Linked DNA regions of Homo sapiens. The protein of the gene in region 1 interacts with the protein of each later gene in a biochemical or structural test. Each region holds a gene or a part of one and is shown on either strand. Other genes may lie near its edges.

What was found.
Region 2: the proteins of LIN28B (region 1) and TRIM71 form a complex in vitro, tested with the Homo sapiens proteins (one study listed by BioGRID).

Annotation. Positions count from the first base shown.
Region 1 is NC_000006.12:104,958,472-104,968,306, reverse strand, and holds part of LIN28B (protein lin-28 homolog B), read right to left. Parts: intron 1-9,835. UniProt on the Homo sapiens protein: Suppressor of microRNA (miRNA) biogenesis, including that of let-7 and possibly of miR107, miR-143 and miR-200c.
Region 2 is NC_000003.12:32,819,286-32,829,120, reverse strand, and holds part of TRIM71 (E3 ubiquitin-protein ligase TRIM71), read right to left. Parts: intron 1-9,835.

The DNA.
Region 1 (9,835 bases):
CTATCCCAAAATTAAATTGGTAGAGACTGTATAATTAGACTTCGTAAAAGGAAGTGAATACAACACAGGAAAAATGATCCTTTGCTTTTATGCCTTATATGCAAACAATGAGAATTAACTGGAAAAAACTTATTTTAAATTTTGCTAAAATGAAAATACCAAACCAACAGTGTTTCACTGAGTACATGATCAATAAAAATTAGTTGGCTTTACTGAACCACGATTTTTATAATCATTTTTTAAAAGTTAATACTTTTCTATGACATTAAGCCATCTTGTTGATTTACATTTCCAAAAATGTTTATACAAGCTGAGCAAAGTGGCTCACATCTGTAATCCCAGCACTTAAGGAGGCAGAGGCAGGAGGATTACCTGAAGCCAGGAGTTCTAAACCAGCCTGGTCAACAAGGCAAGATTCTGTCTCTACAAAAAATTTTAAAAATTAGCCAGGCGCAGTGGCATGTGCCAGGCATGGTGGTGCACGCCTGTAGTCCCAGCTACTCAGAAGGCTCAGGTTGGATAATTGCTTGAGCCAGGAGTTCGAAGTTGCAGTGAGCTATAATCCCACCACTGCACGCCAGCCTGGGTGACTGAGGAAGACCCTGTTTCTAAATAATAATAATAATAATAATTAATTAAATAAAAATTTTAAAAATGTTTATACAAAAACTGAGTTGGGACAGAAATTCAATAAATTTCTTTCTTTCTTTTTTTTTTTTTTTTTTTTTTTGAGAGGGAGTTTCACTCTTGTCGCCTGGAGTGCAATGGCATGATCTCGGTTCTCTGCAACCTCCACCTCCCGGGTTCAAGTGATTCTCCTGCCTCAGCCTTCCAAATAGGTGGGATTACAAGCATGTGCCACCAGGCCTGTCTAATTTTTTGTATTTTTAGGAGAGACAGGGTTTTACCATGTTGGCCAGGCTGGTCTCAAATTCCTGACCTCAAGTGATCCACCCCCCTCAGCCTCCCAAAGTGCTGGGATTACAGGCATGAGCCACCATGCCCAGCCAATTCAATAAATTTCTGACAAGACATATGAACATCAATAAGCCTAATTATGCCCTTTAAGTAAGTGGTGAGTTTACAGCACATGAGAAAATACCATAATGATAAATGAAATTAATATTATATTGAAGATTAGTAAAATGCATATGAATTAATCTCATTAACAAGCACAGACACTACTAGGATAAAGGTTAATTTCCAGGTAGAAAAAAAAACTAAAGAAAACCAGAGTGAGGCCAGGCATGGTGATTCACGCCTGTAAATCTCTGTAACTTTGGCAGGCTGAGGTGGGAGGATCCCTTGAGCCCAGGAGTTCAAGACCAGCCTGGGCAACATGGGGAGACCCCGTCTCTACAAATATAATAAAAAATATCAGCCAGAGGTTGGGCGCGGTGGCTCACGCCTGTAATCCCAGCACTTTGGGAGGCCGAAGTGGGCGGATCACAACGTCAGGAGATTGAGACCATCCTGGCTAACTCGGTGAAACCCCATCTCTACTAAAAATACAAAAAATTAGCCGGGCGTGGTGGCGAGTGCCTGTAGTCACAGCTACTCTGGAGGCTGAGGCAGGAGAATGGCGTGAACCTGGGAGGCGGAGCTTGCAGTGAGCCGATACAGCACCACTGCACTCCAGCCTGGGCAATGTAGCGAGACTCTGTCTCAAAAAAAAAAAAAAAAAAAATCAGCCGGGCATGGTGATGCACACCTAGAATCCCAGCATCTCAGAAGGCTCAGGTGGGATAATTGCTTGAGTCAGGAGTTTGAGGTTGCAGTGAGCCATGATCCCACCACTGCACTCCAGCCTGAGCAAGAGCAATACTCTGTCTCAAAACAAAAACCAGAAAAACTCTTATAATTAAAATGATTAATAAAAACATAGCTCTTGAAAAAAAGATAAAAACTAAAACCTGAGATTGTTACAGTTTTTAAATTATTTTCATGTGTATTATTTCAATTGACCCTTACCATAACCCTCTAAAATAAAGATGAAAAATATTATTTATCACATTTTACCCATAAGAACACTGAAGCTCCCTGGAAGTGACCAGCCAAAAGTTATAAACCAACCAACTGGCAGAGCCGAAGCCAAACACTCATTCCCATGGTTTTTTTTCTCACAATACCACACTACTTCTCCTTTATAATACTAATTATGTACAACACACATTGAGTCCCTACTATCTGCCAAGTTTGTGTTAGGTGCTTTACATATGTAATAACATGTAATCCTCCTAACAGCCCTATACAAAGTGGGTACTATTTTTGTCCTCCGATTTATAGGCCATTGAGACACTGACAAGGTAACTTACTTCCCTTACAGGTATCTAATAAACTGGGATTTGAATACTGATTTGACCAGAATCTTTATCATTCTATACTATCTTACAAAGATTAAATAATTATTAACCAAAAAATGGTATTAAATTATCACAACAGGCCTATTTAAAACAGTATTTTTTCTTTAGCTTATAATGAATACACATGCATATGTACACAGGTAAAATCTTACACAGGTAAAATCTTATGTTACAACAATTATTAAAACCAAAATATCTGCATAACAAAAATATTTCCAAGCTGCAGTTTACACCCTGATACTTTAAACAATATTCTAGGCCTGGCACTGTTGCTCATGCCTGTAATCCCAGGACTTTGGGAGGCCAAGGCAGGAGGATCACTTGAGCCCAGGAAGTCAAGGCTTCAGTAAGCTATGATCCTGCCACTGCACTCTAGCCTAGGCAACAGAGTGAGACCAGATCTCAAAAAAAATAATAATTTTAGAGACCATCTTGCTCTGTCGTCCAGACTGGAGTGCAATGGAGTGATCTCAGCTCATTGTGGCCTCTGTCTCCTGGGCTCAAGAAGTGATCCTTTTACCTCAGGCTCCCTGATATTTGGGACCACAGGTGCATGCCATCAGGCCTAGCTAATTTTTTTGGTAGGGACGGAGTTTTGCCATGTTACCCAGGCTGGTCTAAAACTCCTGGGCTCAATCTGCCAGCCTCAGCCTCCCAAAGTGCTGGGATTACAGGCATGAGCCACCATGCTCAGCCAAAAGAATTATTTTAAATAACAAAAACAATATTCAATGCCACAAAACTATAATGAAAAGCCTTAACATCAACTGTAATGGAAATTAAACTATTAATATACAACACATTTTGGCCAATTTTAAAGAAAGCACATAAAAGACCAGCTTAATTATCCACCATGAGTATACACCACTGAAAATAACTTATCCATTATTCTTTTGGCAAAGACCAGTTTACATTAGTTTATTTTCTCAACAGACACTTACTAGGCAGTTATATAACATTACCTCTACTCTTCAAAACAACTTTAAAAGTTAGGTATTACTCCAGGTAACAGAAAATTATAGAAAAAATTATAACACTAAATCTATCAATTATTTGTAAATCTTATTTAGAAAATATTTCCAAATTGTCAAATATTTAGATATTGGAAAAGAAGAAGCAATAATCAGACTGTCCTCCAATTTGAGATAAATGATTAGATGTATCCTGATGTATCAAAATGCAACATGGTACTTTCATTACTTGTTTGATAAACTACTCATTAAAAGATCATTTTTAAATGTACCCCACTGACCTGCAATGTACTTTCTTAAACACATTACTGTTATCAACTTTTATGATATTAGAAGATGCTATAATCAATTATTTTAGGGAGGAATATAAATCAGTTGAATTTCTTATGCATTGTATATGGTACAATGCCATCTATTGTAACTATGTATTAAATAAGCTGAACTTCCTGTTACTCAAAACTCAGGGGAAATAGCTCAAAGTATAAAGAACTGATAGTCTTTGATAATGATAAAATATCCCATATTTCATTCCAAATCAAGTCTATAGAATATAACATTTAAGATAACTTTCCAGTTTAATTGATCAGAAGTATCTTCACTTTGTTTAGGTTATTCTCAGTTTAGAAGTAAGAATATAGTACATCAAGCTGGACACAGTGGTGCATGCCTGTAGTCACAGCTATTAGGGAGGCTGAGGAGGGAGTATCTCTTGAGACTAGCTAGGAGTTCCAGGTCAGCCTGGGTAACTTAGTCTCAAAAAAACAAAAACAACACAGTGCATCTTATTTTTAAGTAGCAACTTTTAAGTTAATCACAAACCAAAAGAGCTGCTCGGTTAAAATAGACATAACTATCTGTAATATTTCTAACTATCTCTGAATAGGAAGAATTAAACCAAATCCAAATAATGTTTTGTTGCTGCCTGAAAGCGACAAAAATTACAGTGAAGGACTCAATTTTTAATCTACCAAGGTGAACGCAGATAACAAATAAGCTTTTAATTTCTCATGAAACCTAAGAACTCTAAGATAAGTTAAAGACATGCTTTAAAAGGTTACACTGAATACTTGTAAGTGGTTTGACACTCATATTTTTATTTAAAAAATTATTCTTTGATTTACTGCATTCATTTGTTGTGAATAGTCTTTTAAAATAAAAGAGGAATTGAAAATTAGCGAGAACATGCAACACCAAAGGCTAACACTAATATAAACTATGGACTCTGTGTGATTATGATGTGTCAATGTACATTCATTAATTGAAACAAATGTGCCACTCTTGGTAGGGGATGTTGATAATGGAGGATGCTATGCATTTGAAGGGGCAAGGGTACATGGAAAAATCTATGTATTTTCCTCTTAATTTTGCTGTGAACCTAAAACTGCTCTTTAAAAAGGCAGGAGAAAAATATTTAAGAAGTACACCAATAATCTTTAAAACAGGAGAAAGGCCTACATCTTCAATATGTACCCAATTCACATTTCACATTTAAATTGAATCAGAATGTCTTTGTAGGACTTAAATACATGAAAAAGAGTCTGAGAAATGCACCACCACTTGAAAATCAAAAGTATCTTTAGGGCTACATTAAGAAATCTTATAAAATTTTGTTTTATAATAAATGCCTGGCCAGGAGCGGTGGCTCACGCCTGTAATCCCAGCACTTTGGGAGGCCGAGGTGGGTGGATCATGAGGTCAGGAGATCGAGAGCATCCTGGCTAACACAGTGAAACCCCGTCTCTACTAAAAATACAAAAAATTAGCCGGGCGTGGTGGCGGGCGCCTGTAGTCCCAGCTACTCAGGAGGCTGAAGCAGGAGAATGGCGTGAACCCGGAAGGCGGAGTTGCAGTGAGCAGAGATCGCGCCACTGCACTCCAACCTGGGCGACAGAGCCAGATACTGTCTCAAGAAAAAAATTAAAAATAAAATGCCTTTAAATGTGATGTTATGATTAAACGGCCTTAAAGCACTCAGCTTGAGATTCTCTGAAAATGGTCAACTGGGCAATTCATCTTAAAAATCTGGTAGGTTATAAACCATTTTAAAAATATTAAAATACGTAACTCACTATACAAATGAGCTGCTTATGTTCACATTTTCAAGTTTCCAAGATGTCTAATTTTTTTTAATTGGCATTTTAAGCAGCCCAGAGAATAACAATAATCACACATATTCTTCATGTGAAAAATGATTTTATGCTTAACTATAACAAAACTAAACATGGTTAATTAATTAGCAATGAAATATTACGAAAAGCCCTTAAAAATGAATATACTGAAATAAATTTGTTTTCCTACATTGTATAATTAATTAAATACATAAGAACTCTATATTAGATCAATTGATTGAACTATGTGTAAGAAATTTTTCATATATTTAAGCACTAGTCATCTCTAAATGTTTTCATATCTCATACTGTTAATGCTTTAACTCAGTAACAATAATGATTTTATTTTTTCTATTTCCATTACTCCTTGAGATATTTTTGAAGCAAAGGAACATAAAATATATAAAGCCTTTCTAATGTGGGCATTTGAATTATCCATAAAGATCAAAATCTAATTCAAAAATAAAGACCATAAGAAGAAAACACCAATACTTGTAAGGTAAATGAAGATGAATAAAGGTAAATTATTAATAAATATTTAGGCCTACTGAGTAATGGTAGCTAAATTGCAGTCATTTTGAAATTACTCTTTCTCTTTGAGAAAAAAAGAGATACATACATTATGCATACATTATGAAATAAATGAAATACATTTATGTAAACAATTGTATCATATTTGATGGCAAGGAATGCCAAGTATATATACACCCAATATGTGAAGTATTATTAAGCACATAAGCTGAGGAGAGAGTAATAAGGAGAATGTATTCTACACCTTCCCAGAACAAAATCAAATTCAAATGATCATTTCATCTTATTAGGTAAGATAATGACTTTGGAAATAAATATCAAAATCTATAGAAAAACCTATATAACAAACATCAACAGGTAGTTATTAGGTTAACGTTGCCCTTCTCCAAAAGAGATCTAATATTTAATTACCATTCTATTCCTCTAAAGTACCATCAAATATTTAAGTCTTATTAAAAACTTTTAACATTTCAAAAAACTGCCAGTAACATTTTCCAGGTAATGTAAATGTTATCCTACAATCTAACTGTGATTTTAAAAAACATAAGAAACTGGTAAGAGTATTAATTACTTGCACTTACAAAATAATCATATTCTGATTTATGAAATCACCTTAGTAAAAATTTAGACTTAAAGCCGGGCGCGGTGGCTCACGCCTGTAATCCCAGCACTTTGGGAGGGGGAGGCAGGCAGATCACAAGGTCAGGAGCTCGTGACTAGCCTGGCCAACATAGTGAAACCCCATCTCTACTAAAAATACAAAAAATTAGCTAGGCGTGGTGGCGGGCACCTGTAATCCCAGCTACTCAGGAGGCTGAGGCAGAAGAATCGCTTGAACTCGTGAGGTGGAGGTTGCAGTGAGCCGAGATCTCACCACTGCACTCCAGCCCGGGTGACAGTGTGAGACTCCACCTCAAAAAAAAAATAAAAGAATTTAGACGTAACAAATTTGTATTAACCACGTATATCCTTACTTCATTTGAAACAAATCTGTGTTTGTATTACTCGAGAAATTCTTAAATATATTTAAAAATAAAATCATCAAAATTGTCCTATTTTATTAAACATTTTTTAAAAACTTCAACAGTGAGATATGACAAAATTCACAAATATAATACTTACATATTTTGTTAATTTTTTAAAAATAAAATATTCATTATTGAACTATATCAATGTTTCACAATTAACATGGGTCAGAATATATATTTTCACATCATAAAAATATGATTATTTAAATTACAAATTAACATTAGAAAATCAAATGAAGACTGTCATTTTAAACCATCAATGGTTACATACCATCCTCAAATAGCAGAATCTCACAGCATTTATCAACATGTCTAAAGAGAGACTAAAGAGAGACAAAGTACAGCACCTAGGCATGTGTTTCTTTTTGAGGATTTGGTGACATCACAGGAACTACAAGAAAGTTTGATGGTATTACTGCCAATAAATTTTAAGTAGAGTTATGTAACTATAAATATACATAACTACAAATACACAGCTCAATTTTAAAACACACACATATATATATTCTCTTTATTTTGAAGCAACTGAATATGTTTTGATATGCTGTTACATGCAATCAATATTTTTAAGAGAAAAAGTATCCTAGGTTCCTCAGCATAAATTTTTATGTATTTATTAAGGACACAAATAATTTGTTTTTTATTTCTCCAAATATACATTATTAAAAATGTTTCAGAATACTTCAAAAAAAAAATCCAGTGACACATGTACTTCCAAACACTTCAAAAAAAACTATGTCATATATTTTAAAAATTTTGAGTAGACATAGGTCCAGTTGAACATTTAAAATTCCTAATCACCTATGATACATATCCTTTCACAACAAAATAGTACATAGACATAAAACCTGGTATGTTTTCAAAAATGCTTATAAAACTAAAAAGGCCTCTAAAATAATAATAAAAATGTTTTTTAAAATTCTATGAAATCGTCTTGAATTGCAACCTTATTCCATAAGTGATGCACACATAATACCTGTATCATTTACAACCATCTGTTACTTGTAGTTGCTTAGCTAACATCAGTAGGATTCCTGCCTTCTTCAAAACAATTATTCATACAATTTATATACAATTTATGTATATTACAATATAAGAAACCTCTTTAACTAGGCATCATTTAATACTGTCCTTTTAATATATACATGAACTGTATGTATATACTACTGTATGTAACTGAATATTAAGTCAACTATTTAAAAATCAATGTTTATAGTATAGAAACAGCTATATATTTAAAAAACTTCAGCAGCTACATGTTTTAATTCAGTGAATAGAGGAATGTTTATCAATATATAATCATTAAATAGTATAAACACAAATGTCTTGTTGTTCTAAACATTAACATTGGTTAATAAAATATCTTAACATTTGATGAATATTTTAGAAGGTAAACATAGAAAATCAAATTATAAAAAGGCGTGACCAGACAAAGAAGGGTTATTTTTTTCATTCATCTATAAAACAAATTTATGAGATCATAAAAAACAATTTAACAACCTAAAGAAGGTTCAAAGGTGGAAGAAAGAGCCTGAGAGAAAATGGATTTGTCTATGATTTTTGTCATCCAGTCTTAGAGGGGAAAAAACAGAAAATGTAGCTTCATTTTGCACTATAAAATAGGAAGCATAAAATCCAGTAGTCTGTATGTGGACTTGTATTTGTGTACTTAAACCCTGTTTCAATTCACAGATTATGCTGATCCTTCCACATATAAACAGCCAATAATGATGGCCAGGCCTTCAGGAAAGGAAAACACACACCACACAGCAAGGTCAGGAAGCTACCAAGCACCACAGGACAACAGATCAAAACAGAATGGTTTCATATGTTTCTATTGTTTATATATTTAATTTGAAGATGATATTCCTTAGGGAAGGGGGTATAAATATTACTAGGAACATGCAACACAGTATCAAATATATACTTTTCAAGCAAATATACCAAATATTTCACCCATGTATCTGTCAGTCAATCTGTAGTATTAACAGCCTTTCATTCAATTCTTTTTAACTTAGATTATCATGCCAAAATAAACCTCTTTAGTCGTAAACCTCTTTATTTCTAACTACAGAAAATTTATATTTACCTTTTTTTGAGGAAACAACCGGCTTCCATAAAAGTATCTTTTTTACTATAAAGGGATTAAGCAGTAGAGAGGAGTAAAGGCAGAAGTATTAATTCATTATTTCCTGGGTAAAATTTTGAAAATGGGAAGCAATGAAATTCTGTTTGGTATTAAAACATCTTTAAAAATTACAACACAATACGAGCAAAGGTGGAAATTTACCCCAAGTAGCAGACCAGCACATTTTAAACACACAAGCAAGAGCCGCCTCTGGCCACATGTTTTTTTGAGTTCAGTCTCTTAAAGAGACAGTATACGTAGACCAATGACTACACGGAGCACATTTCTAAAATGTTTATCAAGCATCCCTCTATTGCACGCATTTCTTTACAACCACATTAGGCCAACAGTGTTCTATTTTATTTTACTATGAAGTCAAATTATTTTGATCTGAATCTACAAAATGATTACAGGACAGGCAGCGATGAAATAATAAAGGGAGCTACTGTGACTAGAGGTGTCTAAAATAAGGCAATCTATACATTTCTTTCCACAGCAAACTGTTTCGCTTTGTTTTTTCAACCTTAAAATGATCATGTTTCTTCATTTTTCTACCCATTCACCAGATACAGGCGACAAAGTATATTGTATAGGTAATACCGGAAACAACAAGAACACTATTTCGCTGTAGAATGAAGCAGGGGGAAATGCTAATAACGTCAACCTTAATATATATAGTGAAATTTCAAATATTTTCTTTTCTCTT
Region 2 (9,835 bases), on another chromosome or scaffold:
TCAGGAGGCTGAGGCAGAAGAATTGCTTGAACCTGGGAAGCGGAGGTTGCAGTGAGCCGAGATCACATCACTGCACTCCAGCCTGGGCGACAGAGGGAAAGTCCGTGTCAAAAAAAAAAAAAATTAGTGCTTTCTAGTGGGGGACAGTGGCTCATGCCTGTAACCCCAGTACTCTAGGAGACTGACATAGGAGGATTGCTATCACTTGAGGCCAAGAGTTCAAGATCAGTGAACTGGGCAACAAAGTGAGAACCCTGTCTCTACAAAAAAATTATAAGAAAAATTAGTGGTTTTCAAACATGTCATATAAAATGTAAATTGGGGCCAGATGAGGTGGCTCACGCCTGTAATCCCAGCACTTTGGGAGGACAGGCAGGAGGGTGGCTTGAGCCCAAGGGTCAGACACAAGCCTGGGCAACATGGTGCAACCCAGTCTCTACAAAAAGAATTTTTTTTAATTAGCCGGGCATCGTGGCATGCACCTTCTCAGAAGGCAGAGGTGGGAGGATCACTTGAGCCGGGAAGGTTGAGACAGCAGTAAGCTGTGATTGCACCACTGCACTCCAGCCTGGGTGACAGAGCAAGACTCCATCTCAAAAAAAAAAAAAAAAAAAAAAAGTTTACAATTGCCTTCAATTGTAGGGCACTGTGCTATGAGACTTTATATTTCAGCTCTACTCCTTACAACACCGCAAAGAGTTACCCTCATTTTACAGATGCAAAAACTGAGGCAAAGCAGAATCTAACCTAGAATCAGAGTGCTCAAGCAAAGCCAAATAATAGACACTTGATTAAGACTGCCTATCAGGAGTCTTACATTTTTCCAACTGTTACCTAAACTTTCTACTCTCCTGCTCAATGCTTATCTACAACATTTCTGGAAGCATTTTCAGTACAAATCTATTGATAATCCTAAGTAATAGAAATATCTCCCTTTGACACTGATCTCGGAGGGCACAGACCAAAATGTGGAGATATATGATCTAAACTCCTGAATTCCTTTAAGTGTCCAATACATGGTAATAATGGCTGCTGATGCCACTCATTCACAATTCTCATTTCTAAAACACCAGTGCTTAAGTAGTCATCCAATCTATATTTAGCAGCAAAACTTAAGTGCAGATTTTTTATACAACAGCATTTTAATAATTATCCCAATTAGTCCCAAAAGAGTATGAAACGACTTCCCCAAATCCACTGGCATTTCAAGAAAAACATTTTAACTGCAAAAGGTTAAGACGAGAAGAAAATGGCTGGCCAAACTTTCCAGAAGTAACAGCTACAGGATGCAGCAGCCAACAGATGTTTACAAAGGCTCTCATTCTCAGAGGCGCCTGACCTGATTGACCACTCAGGCTCCAAGGTCCATTCAAGGGCCCCTGGAATTCACAGGGTGTCAGAACCAGGAGGGTATGTCCTCAGTCTACACAACTGATCTGCACCCACTTTATTCTTTTTTGTGCCCACTGCTCTGCTTTAAAACCTATTAATGTTGACAAAATGTGCTATTCTGCAGAAGCTCTTATAGATAAATGATCACAATCAAGAATTATCCCCCCTTGCAAGGCGCGGTGGCTCACGCCTGTAATCCCAGCACTTTGGGAGGCTGAGGCGGCAGATCACCTGAGGTCAGGAGTTCGAGACCAGCCTGGCCAATATGGCAAAACCCCATCTCTACTAAAAATACAAAATTAGTCAGGCATGGTGGTGCATGCCTGTGATCCCAGCTACTCGTGAGACGAGGCAGGAGAATCGCTTGAACCCAGGAGGCAGAAGGTACAAGGAGCCGAGATCACACCATTACACTCCAGCCTAGGCAACAGAGTGAGACTCCACCCAAAAAAAAAAAAAAGAATTATCCCCCTACCCTTCATGACAAAGGACCTCATTCCCAATAATCACAACTTCAATATGCTAACATAATTACTGAAAACAGTATTTTTATTGCTAAAGACTACTACTTCTATGTGGAAAATTGTTTTTGAGTGAAATACAACTGACTGCTAATTTTTTGTGCCAACTGATAATTTATAGCTTCACTAAAAACAAACTCATAGCCCGGGCGCGGTGGCTCATGCCTGTTAATACCAGCACTTTGGGAGGCCGAGGCGGGTGGATCATGAGGTCAGGAGATCAAGACCATCCTGGCTAACACAGTGAAACCCCGTCTCTACTAAAAATACAAAAACAATTAGCCGGGCATGGTGGCAGGCACCTGTAGTCCCAGCTACTGGGAAGGCTGAGGCAGGAGGATGGCGTGAACCCAGGAGGCAGAGCTTGCAGTGAGCTGAGTTCGCACCACTGCACTCCAGCCTCAGGGACAGGACAGAGCAAGACTCCGTCTCAAAAAAACAAACAAAACACAAAACTCACCTGACCGGGTGTGGTGGCTCACACCTGTAATCCCAGCACTTTGGGAGGCCAAGGTGGGTGGACCATTTGAGGTCAGGAGTTTGAGACCAGCCTGACCAACATGGTGCCACTACACTCCAGCCTGGGTGACAGAGCTCCCTCTCAAAAAAAAAAAAAAAAAAAAAAGAACTCACCTGATGGGAATTAAAGTTCTGGTTAGGAACCATCTAGGATTAGTAGAAAATCTACAGTAAGGATGACAAAAAAAACTATTAGCCTAAGTCTAATATGAGTATCTCTAAAACTCAGGTTTGGATGGGAGTTTGTTTGTGAGACATAGTCTTGTTCTATCGCCCAGACTGGAGTGCAATAGCATGATCCTGGCCCACTGCAACCTCCGCCTCCCACGCTCAAGTGATTCTCCTGCCTCAGCCTCAGTAGCTGGGATTCGTCCGGCTAATTTTTGTATTTTGAGTAGAGATGGGGTTTCACCATGTTGGTAGGCTGGTCTCGAACTCTGGGCCTTATGTGATCTGCCCACGTCAGCCTCCCAAAGTGCTGGGATTGCAGGCGTAAGCCACCGCACCCTGCCTGGATGGGAGTTGAGTGGGATCTTCCCCCATTTCATTTCATTCTACCACCTTCAAAGCCAGTTGTAAGCAAACTGCATTTATCTACAGCATGAGGAAGGCAAGAGATGGCATGGGAGAGGCAAAGATTTACTTTGGAATATCGTTTAAGTCAAACAGTTTCAAATGTAAAGGGACACCACTAGGCCCCCTACTCCTCCCACTTTTTAGGTTGACAAGTCAGAGTCTTGTCAATCAAAACAGTCAATCTGGTTTCAGTCAACTCAGTTTGTGAGTATAGACAAAACCTCAAAAGGAGGGGAATAATTTAGTATTGAACAAGCAGGAGGTCACATCAGCTTTAGAGGAAAGATGGATCAAGCTTACTCTTGCAAGCCACAATGCTTGAAAGGTCAAGAAGAAAAGCGGTAACGGAGTAGGCTTCAATGGGTGGCATCTTGCTCCCTTAAGGCAACTGTAATTCTTTATCATTATCTTTCTCTTGCTCGCTTCCAAAATGTCAGAGATAGCAAAAACAGCCTTAGTGAGCCAGGCCTTTAACCTTTATTAGTTTTATGGGTGGGAGTGGGAGAAGGGGGGAAGCAGTATTTTGAAACTGCCTGCATAGTATAGAATTCATCTCACCCTTTTGCCTGTCAAAAATGACACTGAAATGGTCCTTTATTTGCTAAGAATGAACACAGACAAAATAAACCTTGCCCTGTGTAGAGAACTGGATGGAGAAATGGCAAACCATGTGACTTTTAGCACCAGAAATAACTCAGAGGGGGTTAAATTTTAGAGCTACAGAATTATTTAATGAAAATTTCTCTTGAACCAGAAAAATTTATAAACACGTTTTACCCTGGCAAACCACTTAAAAAAAAGCGTTTTAGCCATTTAACTTCATTGACAGCTTCCACAAGAGCTAACTCCCTTACTATATATGCACGATTATTAGTTCCTTTTTTCAGTGAAAAGACATAAAGCCCAATTATGCTCATAATTTTACATGTGAGGAGAAAGTTGCATCCATATTAAGTAGTACTTGAGGAAACTAGACATTTAAGCCTCCTGAGATCCTTCTAGAAAAGGACTACCTAAGGGCCAGGCACAGTGGCTCACACCTGAATCCCAGCACTTTGGGAGGTCGAGTTAGGCAGATCACCTTGAGGTCAGGAGCTCAAGACCAGCCTGGCCAACATGGTGAAACACCGTCTCCACTAAAAATACAAAAATTAGCCAGGCATGGTGGCACATGACTGTAGTCCCAGCTACTTGGGAGGCTGAGGCTGAAGAATTGCTTGAACCAGGGAGGCGGAGGTTGCAGTGAGCCAAGATCGCGCCACTGAACTCCAGCCTGGGTGACACAGCGAGACTCCATCTCAAGAAAAAAAGAAAAGAAAAGGACTATCTAGCCCAGCGAGGTGGCTCATGACTGAAATCCCAGCATTTTGGGAGGCCTAGGTAGGCAGGTCGCTTGACCTTGGGAGTTTGAGACCAGCCTGGGCAACATGGCGAAACGCCATCTCCACAAAAATTACAAAAATTAGCCAGGTGTGATGGCTAGAGCCTGTAGTCCCAGCTACTTGAGAGACACAGGCAGGAGGATCTCTTAAGCCTGAGAAGTCAAGGCTTTAAGGAGCTGTACAACTGCACTCCAGCCTGGGATGAGTGAGACTCAGCCTTAAGAAAAGGACTAGGGCCAGGCGCGGTGGCTCTTGCCTGTAATCAATCCCAGCCCTTTGGGAAGCCGAGGCAGGTGGATCACCTGAGGTCAGGAGTTAGAGACAAGCCTGGCCAATATGGTGAAACCCCGTCTCTACTTAAAAAAAAAAAAAAGAAAGAAAAAAAATTAGCCGGACAAGGTGACGAGCGCCTGTAATCCCCGTTACTTGGGAGGCTGAGGCAGGAGAATCACTTGAACCCGTGAGGTGGAGGTTGTAGTGAGCCAAGACTGCACCACCGCACTCCAGCCTGGATAACAAGAGTGAAACTCCATCTCAGAAAAAAACAAAAGGACTAAATAAAAGTATTAAGTAAGTAGCTATAATACAATGGGAGGGAGAACTAGATGGGAAATGGCAATTTTTACCTAATCTTCAAACACTTTTTTTTTTCTTTTTTTGAGACAAGTCTCACTGTTGCCCAGGTTGGAGTGCAGCGGCACGATCTCGGATCACTGCGGCCTCCGCCTCCCCAGTTCAAGCAATGCTCCTGCCTCAGCCTCCTGGGTAGCTGGGACTACAGGCACGCGCCACCACGCCTGGCTAATTTTTGTTGTATTTTTAGTAGAGACAGGGTTTCACCATGTTGGCCAGGATGGTCTCGATCTCTTGACCTCGTGATCCGCCCGCCTCGGCCTCCCAAAGGCGCGGTGGCTCACGCCTGACCCTCTTCAAACACTTTTAGGAAGATTTCCCTGTATCTTTTTAGATAGTCTCGCTCCGTCACCCAGGCTGGAGTGCAATGGCATGATCTCGGCTCACTGCACCCTCGGCTCACTGCAACCTCCGCCTCCTGGGTTTCCCCATTTCAAGTACAACTATTTCACTTTGAAAACAATGTCAATGATAAAGAACAAATACCGTTGTCAAATGAAGAACTGGAAGTCTAGAAAAAGTAACGTTTTTTTCCCCAAATATCTTGTCTTCCAAAATGTATATTCCTAGAATTGGAAATAAAAATCTTGTATCAAATCTATGCAATCCCCAAACCACTAAAACCACTATAGTTTATCTTTGTAAAGGAAGGAAACTGAACAAATAATCACAAAAGGTTTCCCAGACAGTGCTGATACCACAACAGCCTCCATACTACTAGCACAGTTTATGACAGGTTATGCCTTCAAGGCAACCTCATCAGCACAGGCTTGCCAAACTAGCTGTGGCCCACTTCCTGAGGGTCCATGTTGAAAAATCCATTCCTATGCACTTTAATGGAACTACCTTAAGCCCACAAAGGCTAAGCAATTAACATATCAATAACGAACATTTCCCTCCCATATATTTTTATCAAGCATTTTCTGAATTCAGTAGGCTTCCTAATGTCTACCTGCTGAACTGGATTCAAAGCAGCAACCTCTGTAATTATTTTCAAGGCAGTTAGGTTTGGTTTTCCAGCCAGTAGGTGAGATGTCTGCACTCAGAGGACATATTCACCCAGTAGTGTAGAGCAGGTTGAAAGCAGGTAACAGAAATACTAGAATACCCATTTCTGTTCACTTTCTCTCCTTGTCCTTCCTTTAAAAAAATTTTTTTTAAAAATTTGTTGAAATTAATATGAATCAATCGGATTCCAATTAAAATGCCAATTTCTTGTAGAAATTCTCAAAGTTTATCATAAATTTCACCAACTTAGTTACATCTGATCGCCTCTAAAGACGGAAAAGATAGGAAAGTGGTTCTTTAGCTATACCTACATTTCACACCCTTAAAAAGAGAATTACTTCGACATGCAGTGTAAGTGGGAAAATTTGTATTATGCTTTTAAAAATATTTTGGTATGGATTTTATAATTTATGCAAGAACATGAATATAATTTAAAATAAGCATGCATACACTGAGTATATGCAGACCTGAAAAAACTTAGACTTTGGGAACAGAGAATAATATACACTGGTGCTGAATACAGGTACAGTCCCATTTACAATATGACTTAAAATATACAAAACAAATTCACACAGCAACCGATTATTTTAGGCAGCAAACCTCCTTGTTCCAAGTGACTGAAGCCACTTTAAGTTTCCTGCCAGGAGACAGTCCCAGGAGTGCTCAATGTTCAGGGTCAAATCAAGTTGGAATTCTAGAACTTTTCTCTTCAGGAGGCATTTTAAAGCCCAACACAGGGACCGCATGGATTCTACCAACACCTGCACCCCTTTTTCCAACCAGACTCCAGAAAACGCCACCCCCAGACCTGCCTAACTGGGAACAATATTGCCATCCTCGGGTGGGGCGGGCTACAATGTTTTCCAGGTGGCAACAATGTCACCCCCACTGCCCCTCACCGCTAGTGACAGAGGCTTTCCTGGGTTCAAACCCTGCTCAACTTCCCGCCATTCACAGAATCCTGACGCCCAGCTTAGGCACACAACACACCCAGCATTTCTGCTGCCGGTGTCGCCTCCAAGGCTGCAAAGGGCTCACGTTCTATGTGCCAAAAGCAAAACAACACTAAAGGGTCACTTGTGAGCAGCTGGAGCAGCGCTCACAACTCCCTAGTTGTGAAACTCTTCCCCCAAAACTCAAGCGAAGACCCTACTCCATGACCAGAGCGGCCGTGAATACCCCAGCGGGTGCCTGCGGGGAGAAGAGCAGCCGCCGGCCAGGCCACGTCCCCAGAGCCGAGGCAGGCTCCGGGCTGGCCGGGCGGCGGCGCAGGCCCGCGGCGACTCTACCTGCGCCCGCCTCTCCCGGGACCCGCGGCACGCAGCGGGCCCGCGGCCAGCTGTTCCGGGGACGGCGACCTCGGATTCCTCGCCTTGGATTCCCCGCCCGGATGCCGGCTGGGCCACGGAGCCTGCAGGCCTTTCGGACTCTGGAGGCACAGAACTAGTGAAAAGCCCCAACTATGTTGTTGAAATAAGCCAAAATAAAAGAGTAGCAGCAAGTACGTCTCATTATTTCGTTGGAAAACCCAAAGATTTCCAGGTTATCATCATTACGGTTTAAAGCCAATTGCTCAGACGAGACACCTTACTTGCCAATCCTAAGAAGGCATTTTACAAGGGGATGCTTAAGGAAGAAAGTCCCCCTGGGCGAGAGACCCTGCAGGCTGGGGTAGGGTGTTTGGGCCTCCTTCCCAAGGTCAGGTGGCCTGAGTCACTATAAGGAAAAGGTGCTACTCTGAATTATTTAACGGAGCCTGTGGACAAGGGAAGCAACTCAGTTAAGGAGCTCATCTTAAAAATTGAGGTAGACAGTATACACATTAAAATATGTGGATTTAGGCATTCAGTGTATCGCAGTCCAGATATGGGTCAGTCTATCATCCTCCAAAAATGTCCTAAAGCTCCTTCCCAGCCAGAGAGGGATGACTTTTTAAAGGAACAATATTCTCAAACTGTTAACGAGATCAAAAGAAAAGGAATTATTTAAGCTGTAGGTGGAACCGTTTATGAACCTCACTACCTGTTAGTGCTGTCTCTCCTAACACTTTAGTCTTCTACTCAGAACACTGGTTTGTCACCTTTAATCTCAAATTTCTAGCGTTCTAAATCCAGGAATGAATAAAAAGGCCAAACAACTTCCGAAATGTTTTTAATGAAAAGCTAAAGGGAGCAAGCAGAATCTTGCTCAAAACTGAGCAAATTTTATGTTAAGGATTATTAGTTACTTCAACCTGACATTGCACATGCTAAAAAGTGAATTTGAAGAGCTTCCGAGTACCTCCCAGGGTGAGTGGAGAGCTTCACTTCTCAATTCACACTCCCCAATGCAGTTTGAAGGGTTTTCTAATTTTAAAAGTGAATAAATCTTTTACAAGTCTGCCAACACTGAGCATCTACTGTTTCAGCCCAAATAAAATATAGGTGTATCTTTAACTGGAAATATAAACTGACATTTAAACTAAAAGCACCTCTCAGAAGGGGAAACTCCTGGATTCAACCCCATTCTGCTCACCCTGCATTTGATCCCAAACTGCAAGTGAATTGGCTCCATTTTTCTGTTCCTGGGATTTGGATCGGTATTTACCTCAATCACTCATTTTTCTAAAAGTGATGAAAGAACATGAACCCACAGTATATTAAAACTAGGAGTCCATTCAAAGTTTAAAAACGGAAAAAAAAGATAACTGCCCCCTAGCTTCTTACCTAGAAGAAACCTTTTAAAAGGAGATGCCTACAACAAGTAGATTAGAATTTCAACTTTTTTCCAACAGGAGAAGCCAGCTAAAGGCCATCAGGCAATAGCTCCGCCCTCCTCCCCAAATAACAGGTTAGGAGTGGAAAAGGCAGCGGCGCTGGGCTCACCTTTGCGGTGCTCGGTACCCACTCTCCAGCTCACACAGGCCACGACCCCCACTATGGCTTTTAAAGCCTCTGCAGTCTCCAGCTTACGCTCTAAGTCAAGACTTTCACCCACACCCTCTCTTACCGGTCTACAGGTAGATCGCCTAAGTTACCGACCCCCTCGGCAAGAGCCCGCTTCTCAAGACTTTTGGCCTGCCTTCATTGGGTTCGGGGGAGAAGACGACACTCGCATAATACCAAAGTGGAAAGGAGAAAGGGGTCACACTGTGTGAAAAGCAAATGTTTACTCGACAGCCCAAAGGGCGAAATCGAGCCCGAGGGTTGCAATGTAGCCCTAAAAGCCTTTGCACTCCGGCGTTCCAGCAGCGTACGGCTGCCTTGGTCTTTTCCAAGGAAGTCGAGACCCTGGTTGAGCCGGGTGGATACCTCCTAACCAGGGAAACCGGTTCCTGTAGGGCTTGGAGTCGGGGCAGGCGGGCGCGGCCCAAGAGACTCAGGCTGGTGAAGGTAACGTCGTCCCTTTATTCCGCTTCTATCTCGGGGTGCAGCCGTGGGCCCACGAACGGCGATTTCACGCTAGGAGAATTCAGGGGCCAGAACACGCATTTTAAACAATATAGGAAGCAGCCGCAGAGAGAGAAGGGCTTAAGACTGGGGGCCCTTGGCCCTCAAAGATCCACAGACGCTCCCACTCTTACCCAACATAAGGAGGCAAGGACTGCCATGCTGTCCCAACAACAAAAAAACCAGTCTTCCCCTCACAAGTGCGCACGTGGAAACCAGGTCTACGGAGGCACACAAACTCCACGCACTCACCCACACAACCATCTCTTCCGGGCTCACGCCCCATTTTAAAGGCAACAATCTATGAGTTTTCCAAACAAAAATCTGAAAATAAAGGAGCGCCTTCTCAGCACGTTGGGAGGCCTCTGGTGTGCCC